Regions from separate parts of the Homo sapiens genome. Here regions 2 and 3 are each linked to region 1. The links come from fine-mapping of genetic effects on gene expression. A gene starts in region 1. Each other region holds a variant in brackets. All regions are shown on one strand. Distances are from middle to middle. Region 1 holds the start of ERFE (erythroferrone). Region 2 overlaps ILKAP (ILK associated serine/threonine phosphatase). Region 3 has its middle 9.2 kb from the start of ILKAP.

Region 1 (2,756 bases):
ATGAAGTATTTCCTGGTTTCCCCACCTGCCAGGCATGAGGCCAGCCAGGTGGAACATCGCATGAGTGGCCAGAAAAGGCAGGCGACAAAGGCCAGCTTGCATCTGAGGACGGAACTTGGCCCATCCCCAAGCCTGGGGGGCACCACCTGCGGCTGCTGGTGCCCCTTTCAGTCCCTGCTGCCACATCCTGTGAACCAGGACAGGGTAAGGCCTCCTTTCCCCAGCGGGCTCTTCTCAAAAGAGTTCCCCGGGAACAGCAGCCCTCGGTGTGAGTGTAAGGTACTTTTCCAGCGGAGCCTTCTCCCGTTCTTTAACAAAAAGCACTGTGTACCCACCAGGGGCAGGTGCCTCGGGGGTGGGGCAAGCGAGCCAAGTGTGCGACCCTCCTCGGCTTAGCGTCCAGTGGTGGGGCAGATAGTCAAAAGGGCATGCGATATAACAAAGCCAGGGGTAGGGTGGGGCTGGGGCTGGCTCTTTCCTGGTAGGGCCGCCCAGAGGCCTCTCTGCCACCTTCTCCGAGGCCTGCAGGGTCTGGTCCACCTCTGGGGGCACTGATTCCGGTGGGCGGTGGGCAGCCTGGCTTCCGGTCTGGTCTGCCCCCACACCCCCGCTAGGGCACGATAGGGGTCAGTTCTCCCAGCCCAGGCCCCGCTCAGCCCCACCAGGGCAGGGCGGCTGTCCTGAGTTGTTTCTTGGCTCCCTGCGTCTTCTGGGTCCCGGCAGGTGCGACAGGTGGGGAAGAACAGTGAATCCCTGCGCTCAGAGCACGCCAGCCATGGACGGAGGGCGGCCTGGAAAGGGGAGTTCCCGCCTGGGAAAGGGGCGCTGAGAAGGGGCCCTGAGGGTCTCCCGGCTCAGATTTGCTCCACCTGTGTCATAGAGGCCTGGGCCTTGCGGGGCGCAGCCAGGAGAATGGGGAGGGGGTACCTCGGGGGTCCCTGCAGAGGACGTGGGGGACAGAGCGGGGAGAAAGGATGCCTCGAGCCGTCTGGGAGGAGGCAGCGCCTGGCTCCCCGCAAAGAAAATGGGGTCGCGAGGGCCGAGGGTCCAGGGCTGGGAGAAGGGGCGCCTCGCTCCCCAGGAAGCAGAAGCGCTGGACAGCGCGAAGGAGGGATCCCAGAACCAGGAGTTGCAGGGGGGACGCGCCCAGCAGGGGAACACCCCTCGCTCTCCCTGCCCTGCCCCGCTCCCCGTGCCCCCTCCCCCACTCCCCCTCCCCCGCCCGGACACTCCCCCCATCCCCATGCAGCGCGCACGGGAGCCGGGAGGGGGCGCGGGCGGGCGCGCGGTCTCGGGCGAGGCGGGGGATTCAAGCGCGTTATAAGGCGAGGAGCCCGGGGCGTCCGAGACGCCGCGCTCGGAGCCGCGAGGGAACCGCCGCCCGCATGGCCCCGGCCCGCCGCCCCGCCGGAGCCCGCCTGCTGCTCGTCTACGCGGGCCTGCTGGCCGCCGCCGCCGCGGGCCTGGGGTCCCCGGAGCCTGGGGCGCCCTCGAGGAGCCGCGCCCGCAGGGAGCCGCCGCCCGGGAACGAGCTGCCCCGGGGCCCCGGGGAGAGCCGCGCGGGGCCGGCCGCTCGTCCGCCGGTAAGACGCCCGGGCCCGCTCCAGACCCAGCCCGCGCCCGCACGCCCCGGCTCGGGGCGGCGGGAGGCGGACGTGGAGGCCGAGCCCGCCCTCACCCCCGAGGGCTGCTGCATCGCCTGGCACCGGGGCTCCGGGGCTCCGCAGAGACTCAGGGCCGTGTAGACGCCGCCCTCAGCCCGGCGGGGCAGCCTTGACTTTGGCTTTGGGGTAGTTTGACTTAAAGCAAGGTTCTACTAGGTCGGCGAAACCCCCCTTTTCTTTTGGGACAGAAGGAAGTTGGGAAATAGATAAAGTGTAAATAACTTGATTTGAGGAAATTGGGAAGAACGCATTTGTAAAAAGTGTAAGCGAATTACTGCCACCGCCCCCAATCTATTTGGTGCAATTATCTGGAAAACAAAAAGTGTTTTCCTGCGGATCTGGGGTCGGGGGGCTGTGCAGGGTGGGGAATGACATGTGGCTTTGAGTCAAGTGATCAGGTGGCTTTTGGCCGTGAGTGGGTGATCTTGAGCTCTGCCCTGCCCCCTCCTCTCCAGGGTTTTGGAGCCTGGACTGCTGAGCAGAGGGTGGTCCGGTTGGGGAGGTGTGGCCCAGGCCTGAGGAGGGGAGAACTTCAGAGGAGCCCTCAGTGTGGCCGGGCCTTGGGTCAGGGAGACAGGGCTGCCCCAGGGAAGCCGGGGTGGGCGGCCGGTGCTGTTTATTCTGAAGATGCTCAGGGGCAGTAGAGGGGAGAGCCAGGAACGCATCTACTAGAGAGGACAGGGGTGCAGCCAGGCCTGGGGTCCCCCAGAGTTCTCTATCCCGGCCCCATCACACCCAGCCACTTCCCAGGGACTGAAGGCACCCCCTCCCCGTGCAGTTGGCCAAACCACCCAGGTGGGCACAGCAGCCAAATGTCAGGGCACTGTCAGCAGGAGGCAGACGGGGCTCAGGGGCTTCCAGGTGGAGTTTTGGCCTTGGACCCTGTTTGTGGGGGACACAGTGACACCAGAGGTCCTCCCAGGCTCCAAGGCTTGTTTCTGAGAGACCCCTTGTGGCTGGAACCAGGGCAGCTGCCCAATACCCACCCCCATTGCTGGGGCCGTCTCCTGGGACGCCACCTTCTGCCTGTTACAGCTCTACCTGCAAACCACACTGGGGTCAGGGTCCGGCCACAGGCCACAGGTGCAGCTG
Region 2 (2,756 bases), 30 kb after region 1:
GCTAATTTTTCATTGTCTGTCTTTTCCTTGACATCATTTTGACTTTTGTTCTTCCTGGGCCCTGATTATCTGTACTAGCTCTGCTTGATCACCATTCATACTTTAATTAGTGGCTTCCAACTCTTATCTTCTAGGTCATGGATTAAAAATATTCTCTGCCAGAAGCCGCTCAGTTGCTGGTAAGGAGTAACACACGCTGCAGAGCCATGCTATGAAGCGTCATCTCCCGCTCAGCAGGGCTGCTCAACCGCGACACTACTGACATTCCAGGCTGAACAATTCTTTGTTGTGGGGCTGCCCTGTGCTTCTAAGATGTTTACCAGCATCCCTAGTCTCTACCCACCAGATGCCAGTAACAACTCCCTCCCGCAGTTGTGACAAAAATGTACCCAAACACTGACAAATGTCCCCTGGGCGGGGAGCAAAATCAACCCCAGCTGAGAATCACTGATGTACAATCAAGTGATGTGTTAGATTTTCTAGTAAATACAAACTAGCCAGTCCAAAATGCCAGTCAGAACCCAGGAGATGTTAATGCCAGCCGGGCTTCCTACCACATGAGACTCACATGAGGGACGATGGGGGCCTACACTCCTCGGTGATGTCGTTCAGGATGACGTGGGCATCCTGCATCTCCTCCCTCTCACCCTTCCGCTCAGCCACATAGCCCTTCAGACCAAAGATCACCGAAGAGGCTAAGGAAAAGAGAACAAAAGAGCCAATACAAAACTGTGCCCAACCCTCTGGAAACCCTAGTCCCAGAGCAAATGAGAGGGAACTATGACTGTCTGACTCAGCAATATCCTAATGGCGCAAACAAATAAGCAATACCCCTTAAGGCATCTCCCCCAGCTGCAAGTCTATAACTCAAATCGGAGCACTGTTGGACAGGGTGAGCTCTAAGAGGTTGCACAGGGACACAAAAGAGGAGTCAGTGAGCACAAAACAACTCTGTCTAGGGTGTAAGTCAAAGCATCAGGGCAAGGGATGTGCTGCCATCCCAGAGAAGTGAGATTCAAATCAGGCAAAAGGATCATGTGCAAATTAGTCTTGTGATAATTGAATAAGGACAAATGCAAGTCAGGAGAGTTTATCTCAAAAGCCCTTAAGATGCCCTGAAAATATGTATTTCCATGCTCAAGGCTGGTGAAGAATTTGAACAAACAGTAAGATCAGCTGCTTTTACTTCAACTGAGGAAGAAAA[G/C]GATAAAAGATTCCAATGCAGGCAGAGATCTATTTACATTTAATGGTTAGACTCATTTAAGCTTATTTTCTGATACCTAATGCCAGACAAATAATAAAATGAACACTGTGAAGAGCTGTCTTCTGGGAAGTGACAAGCTAAGTTGAAGATGACATCTTCCCAGCAAAGCTACAAGTGGGTTTTTTCACATACCTCTGCCTGCATCATACAGCTTTCACTGAGGTAATCTGTGACAAAGGACAATGCAGTCAATGAAAATCCCACAGCTCGGGCCAGGCACGGTTGCTCACGCCTGTAATCCCAGCACTCTGGGAAGCCGAGGCGGGCAGATCACAAAGTCAGGAGATCGAGAGCATCCTGGCTAACATGGTGAAACCCCGTCTCTACTAAAAATACAAAAAACTAGCCAGGCGTGGTGGCAGGCGTCTGTAGTCCCAGCTACTCGGGAGGCTGAGGTAGAATGGTATGAACCCGGGAGGCGGAGCTTGCAGTGAGCCGAGATGGTGCCACTCCAGCCTGGGCGACAGAGCGAGACTCTGTCTCAAAAAAAAGAGAAAAAAAGAAAATCCCACAGCTCAAGAATACTTTAGTACCACAACTGAAGTATTCTCTTTAGTTAATACTTTTCGTTTTCTTCCTCACTAACTTTGACAAGTTACACAACTGACTACAAATTTCAACGGCTTTTTCCAGGCTTAGGGAAGCTGCCTACTAAGCTAAATCACGTAATTCAAAGCACTAATTGACAAACTGCAAACAAAGATTGGAAGTCAGAGAGAGACTAGGTGGTCAAAAAACTAACCATTCACTGCAGAAGGCTAAGAAAAAAACCACCTGTATTTTTTAACTCTTGAGGAACAAATGTAGGTTTCCTATCTGATCAAAGGTAGGATCAGAGATAGATGTACATGAAAAGTAGGAGAAAGCACAGAGAAACTTGGAAATTCATTTGCAAAAAGGGAACCCTACTTATTTCTTAAATACAGACATAAAAAGAAAGTATTATTAGAAAGCTGAAACTGGTTTTGCTCTGGGTTGTTTTAAAATATGAAGTCTAATACATTTGTTTTCAAATTGTCTGAAAACCTTTACAAACTTTCTTTTCCACAAGCTCTTCACTGCCATTCTTCTCTTCCTCGGAGGTTTTTCTCTTTGCTCCTTTCCCTTCAGTCTTTACCATCTGGGATATTGATGTGGCAAGAGAACCTGGAAATAAAGTAAAAGCCAGACAGAAACACAGCTGTAGACTGTTGGAAAAAGTCACTAGTAGACTGGGCTTCATCCTAGCACTCAAAGACAAGGTCATTTGAAGCAAGGACTGGCAGACACAGGCAGACCCAGGAGTTGTGTCTTCATGGTTGGCGGGGAGGGGGAGGGGGGTCCCACAGTGAGAGAACATAAAGTTAAGATCCAGGCCCTGAGTCAAACTGACCCTGCTGAAGGGGTTTGTAAAAGACTTTTCCCAGTGGTAAAAATACATGGTTTTTTTTGGCCTGTAGCATATACATGTTTTTATATCCACAGGCTCTTAGTGTTAAACAAACACTTACAA
Region 3 (2,756 bases), 54 kb after region 1:
GAGGTCCCACCGAGATGTCTGGGGACCCTCTAGTTTTTGTAATTTTTTTTCTGGATATCTGGGAAATAAATTGGAGGTAGAAAAAGTTTGACCTTCTCTAGATTCTGGGTCCAAATTGGTATATTTTAGCATAGCTTCAGTGAGGCGTGATAAGAAGAGGGCAGGATTTTCCTGGGGCTCTTGTGTAATTTAACTTTTTCTTTTTTTTCTTTCTTTTTTTTTTTTTTTTTGAGACAGAGTCTCACTCTGTTGCCCAGGCTAGAGTGCAGTGGCGTGATCTCAGCTCACTGCAACCTATGCCTCCCGAGTTCAAATGATTCTCTTGCCTCAGCCTCCTGAGTACCTGGAATTACAGGTGCCCGCCACCATGCCCAGCTAATTTTTGTATTTTTAGTAGAGATGGGATTTTTTGCCATGTTGGCGAGGCTGGTCTCAAACTCCTGACCTCAAGTGATCCACCTGTCTCAGCCTCCCAAAATGCTGGGATTATAGGTGTGAGCCACTGCACCCAGCCTCAAAAAACCAACTTTTTACCTCATTGATCTTTTGTATTGTCTTCTTCATTCCAATTTCATTTCTTCCTGTTCTGATCTTTATTGTTTCCTTTCTTGTACTAACTTTGGCTTTTGTTTGCTCTTGCTTTTCTTTAAGATGCATCACTAGGTTCTTTATTTGAAGTCTTTCTTCCTTCCTTTCTTTCTTTCCTTTCCTTTTTTTTTTTTTTTTTTTTGACAGAGTCTCACTCTGTCGCCAGGCTGGAGTGCAGTGGCGCGATCTCGGCTCACTGCGAGCTCCGCCTCCTGGGTTCACAACATTCTCCTGCCTCAGCCTCCCAAATAGCTGGGACTACAGGCACCCGCCACCGCGCCCAGCTAATTTTTTGTATTTTTAGTAGAGACAGGGTTTCACCGTGGTCTCGATCTCCTAACCTCGTGATCCACCCGCCTCGGCCTCCCAAAGTGCTAGGATTACAGGCGTGAGCCTCTTTCTTTCTTTCTGTGCCCAGCCTCTTTCTTTCTTTCTTTCTTTGAGACAGAGTCTTGCTCTGTCGCCCAGGCTGGAGTGCAGTGGCATGATCTTGGCTCACTGCAGTCTCCATCTCCCAGGTTCAAGCAATTCTTGTGCCTCAGTCTCCCAGGTAGCTGGGATTACAGGTGGCTACCATCATGCCTGGCTTTTTTTTGTATTTTTAGTAGTGATGGGGTTTTACTGTGTTGGTCAGGCTGGTCTTGAACTCCTGACCTCAAGT[G/A]ATCCACCCGCCTTGGCCTCCCAATGTTCTGGGATTATAGGCATGAGCCACTGGCCCCAGCTTGAAGTTTTTCTTCTTTCTTAGTGAAGGCACTTATAACTATAAAATTCCCTCTTGGTACTGCTTTTGCTGTATCCTATAGGTTTTGGTATGTTGTATTTCCACTATCATTTCTTTCAAGATATTTTTCAATTTCCTTCTTAATCACATCATTGATCCACTGGTCATTCAGGAGCATATTGTTTAATTTCCATGTGTTTGTCTAGTTTCCAGAATTCCTCTTGTTATTGATTTCTAGTTTTATTCCCTTGGGGTCAAAGAAGATACTTGACATTACTTCAATTTCTTTGACTGCTTTAATTCTTGTTTTGTGGCCTAACATGTGATCTATCCTTGAGAATGATCCATGTGCTGAGGAGAAGAATATATTCTGAAACTGTTGGATTAAATTCTCTATAAATATCTATTAGGTCCATTTGGTCTGTAGTGCAGATTAAGTGTGATGTTTCTTTGTTGATTTTCTCTTCAGATGATCTGTCCAATGCTGAAAGTGGGGTGTTGAAGTCTCCATCTGTTGTTTTTTTTTATTTTTTATTTATTTTTATTTTTTGAGATGGAGTTTTGCTCTTGTTGCCCAGGCTGGAGTGCAGTGCTGTGATCTTGGCTCACTGCAACCTCCGCCTCCTGAGTTCAAGCAATTCTCCTGCCTCAGCCTCCCGAGTAGCTGGGATTACAGACATGTGCCACCACGCCCAGATAACTTTGTATTTTTAGTAGAGATGGGGTTTCACCCTGTTGGTCCAGCTGGTCTCAAACTCCTGACCTGAGGTGATCTGCCTGCCTCAGCCTCCCAAAGTGCTGGGATTACAGGTGTGAGCCACCATGCCCAGCCTCCAGCTGTTATTGTATTGCAATCTATCACTGTCCTTAGCACTAATAATGTTTGGTTTATAGATCTGCATGCTGCAGTGTTGGGTACATATATATTTACAATTGCTATATCCTCTTGCTGAGTTGACCCCTTTATCATTATATAGTGATGTTGTCTCTTTTTATAGTTTTTGTCTTGCAATCCGTCTTATCTAAGTATCACTACTCCTGCTCTTTTTTCAGTTCCATGCATATCTGTTTCCATCCTTTTATTTTCAGTCTATGTGTGTCTTTATAGGTGAATAGTGTTTTATGTAGGCAACAGACCATTTGGTCTTGTTTTTTAATCCATTCAGCCACTCTATGTCTTTTGATTGGAGTGTTTAGTCTATTTACATTCAATGTTATTATTGATAAGTAAGGACATACTCCTGCCATTTTGTTGTGTTCTAGCTGCTTTTGGTTTTCTCTTCCTTCTTTCCCTCCTTCCTGTCTCCCCCACACCCTTTTTTGGAGACAGTCTTGCTCTGTTTTCCAGACTGGAGTGCAGTGGTGCAGTCATGGCTCACTGCAGCCTTGACCTCTTGGGCTCAAGTGACCCTCCTGTCTCAACCACCTGAGTAGCTGGGACTACAGG

The links. PIP is the estimated chance that this variant, and not a neighbour inherited with it, causes the effect.
Region 2: its variant is fine-mapped to the expression of ERFE in whole blood (TOPMed, PIP above 0.99).
Region 3: its variant is fine-mapped to the expression of ERFE in whole blood (TOPMed, PIP above 0.99).

What each region holds. Positions count from the first base shown.
Region 1 is chr2:238,157,623-238,160,378 of GRCh38, forward strand. It overlaps ERFE (erythroferrone), which reads left to right and starts at 1,348. Exons shown (of 8, transcript NM_001291832.2): 1 at 1,348-1,583. The coding sequence starts at 1,386. RefSeq lists a silencer at 1,326-1,395.
Region 2 is chr2:238,187,563-238,190,318 of GRCh38, forward strand. ILKAP (ILK associated serine/threonine phosphatase) reads right to left here. Exons shown (of 12, transcript NM_030768.3): 4 at 2,291-2,410; 5 at 569-695. Among named protein-coding and RNA genes, the nearest start is that of ILKAP, 15 kb to the right of the region's middle. The variant G/C (reference allele first, on the strand shown) is at 1,205.
Region 3 is chr2:238,211,483-238,214,238 of GRCh38, forward strand. No RefSeq gene overlaps it. Among named protein-coding and RNA genes, the nearest start is that of ILKAP, 9.2 kb to the left of the region's middle. The variant G/A (reference allele first, on the strand shown) is at 1,250.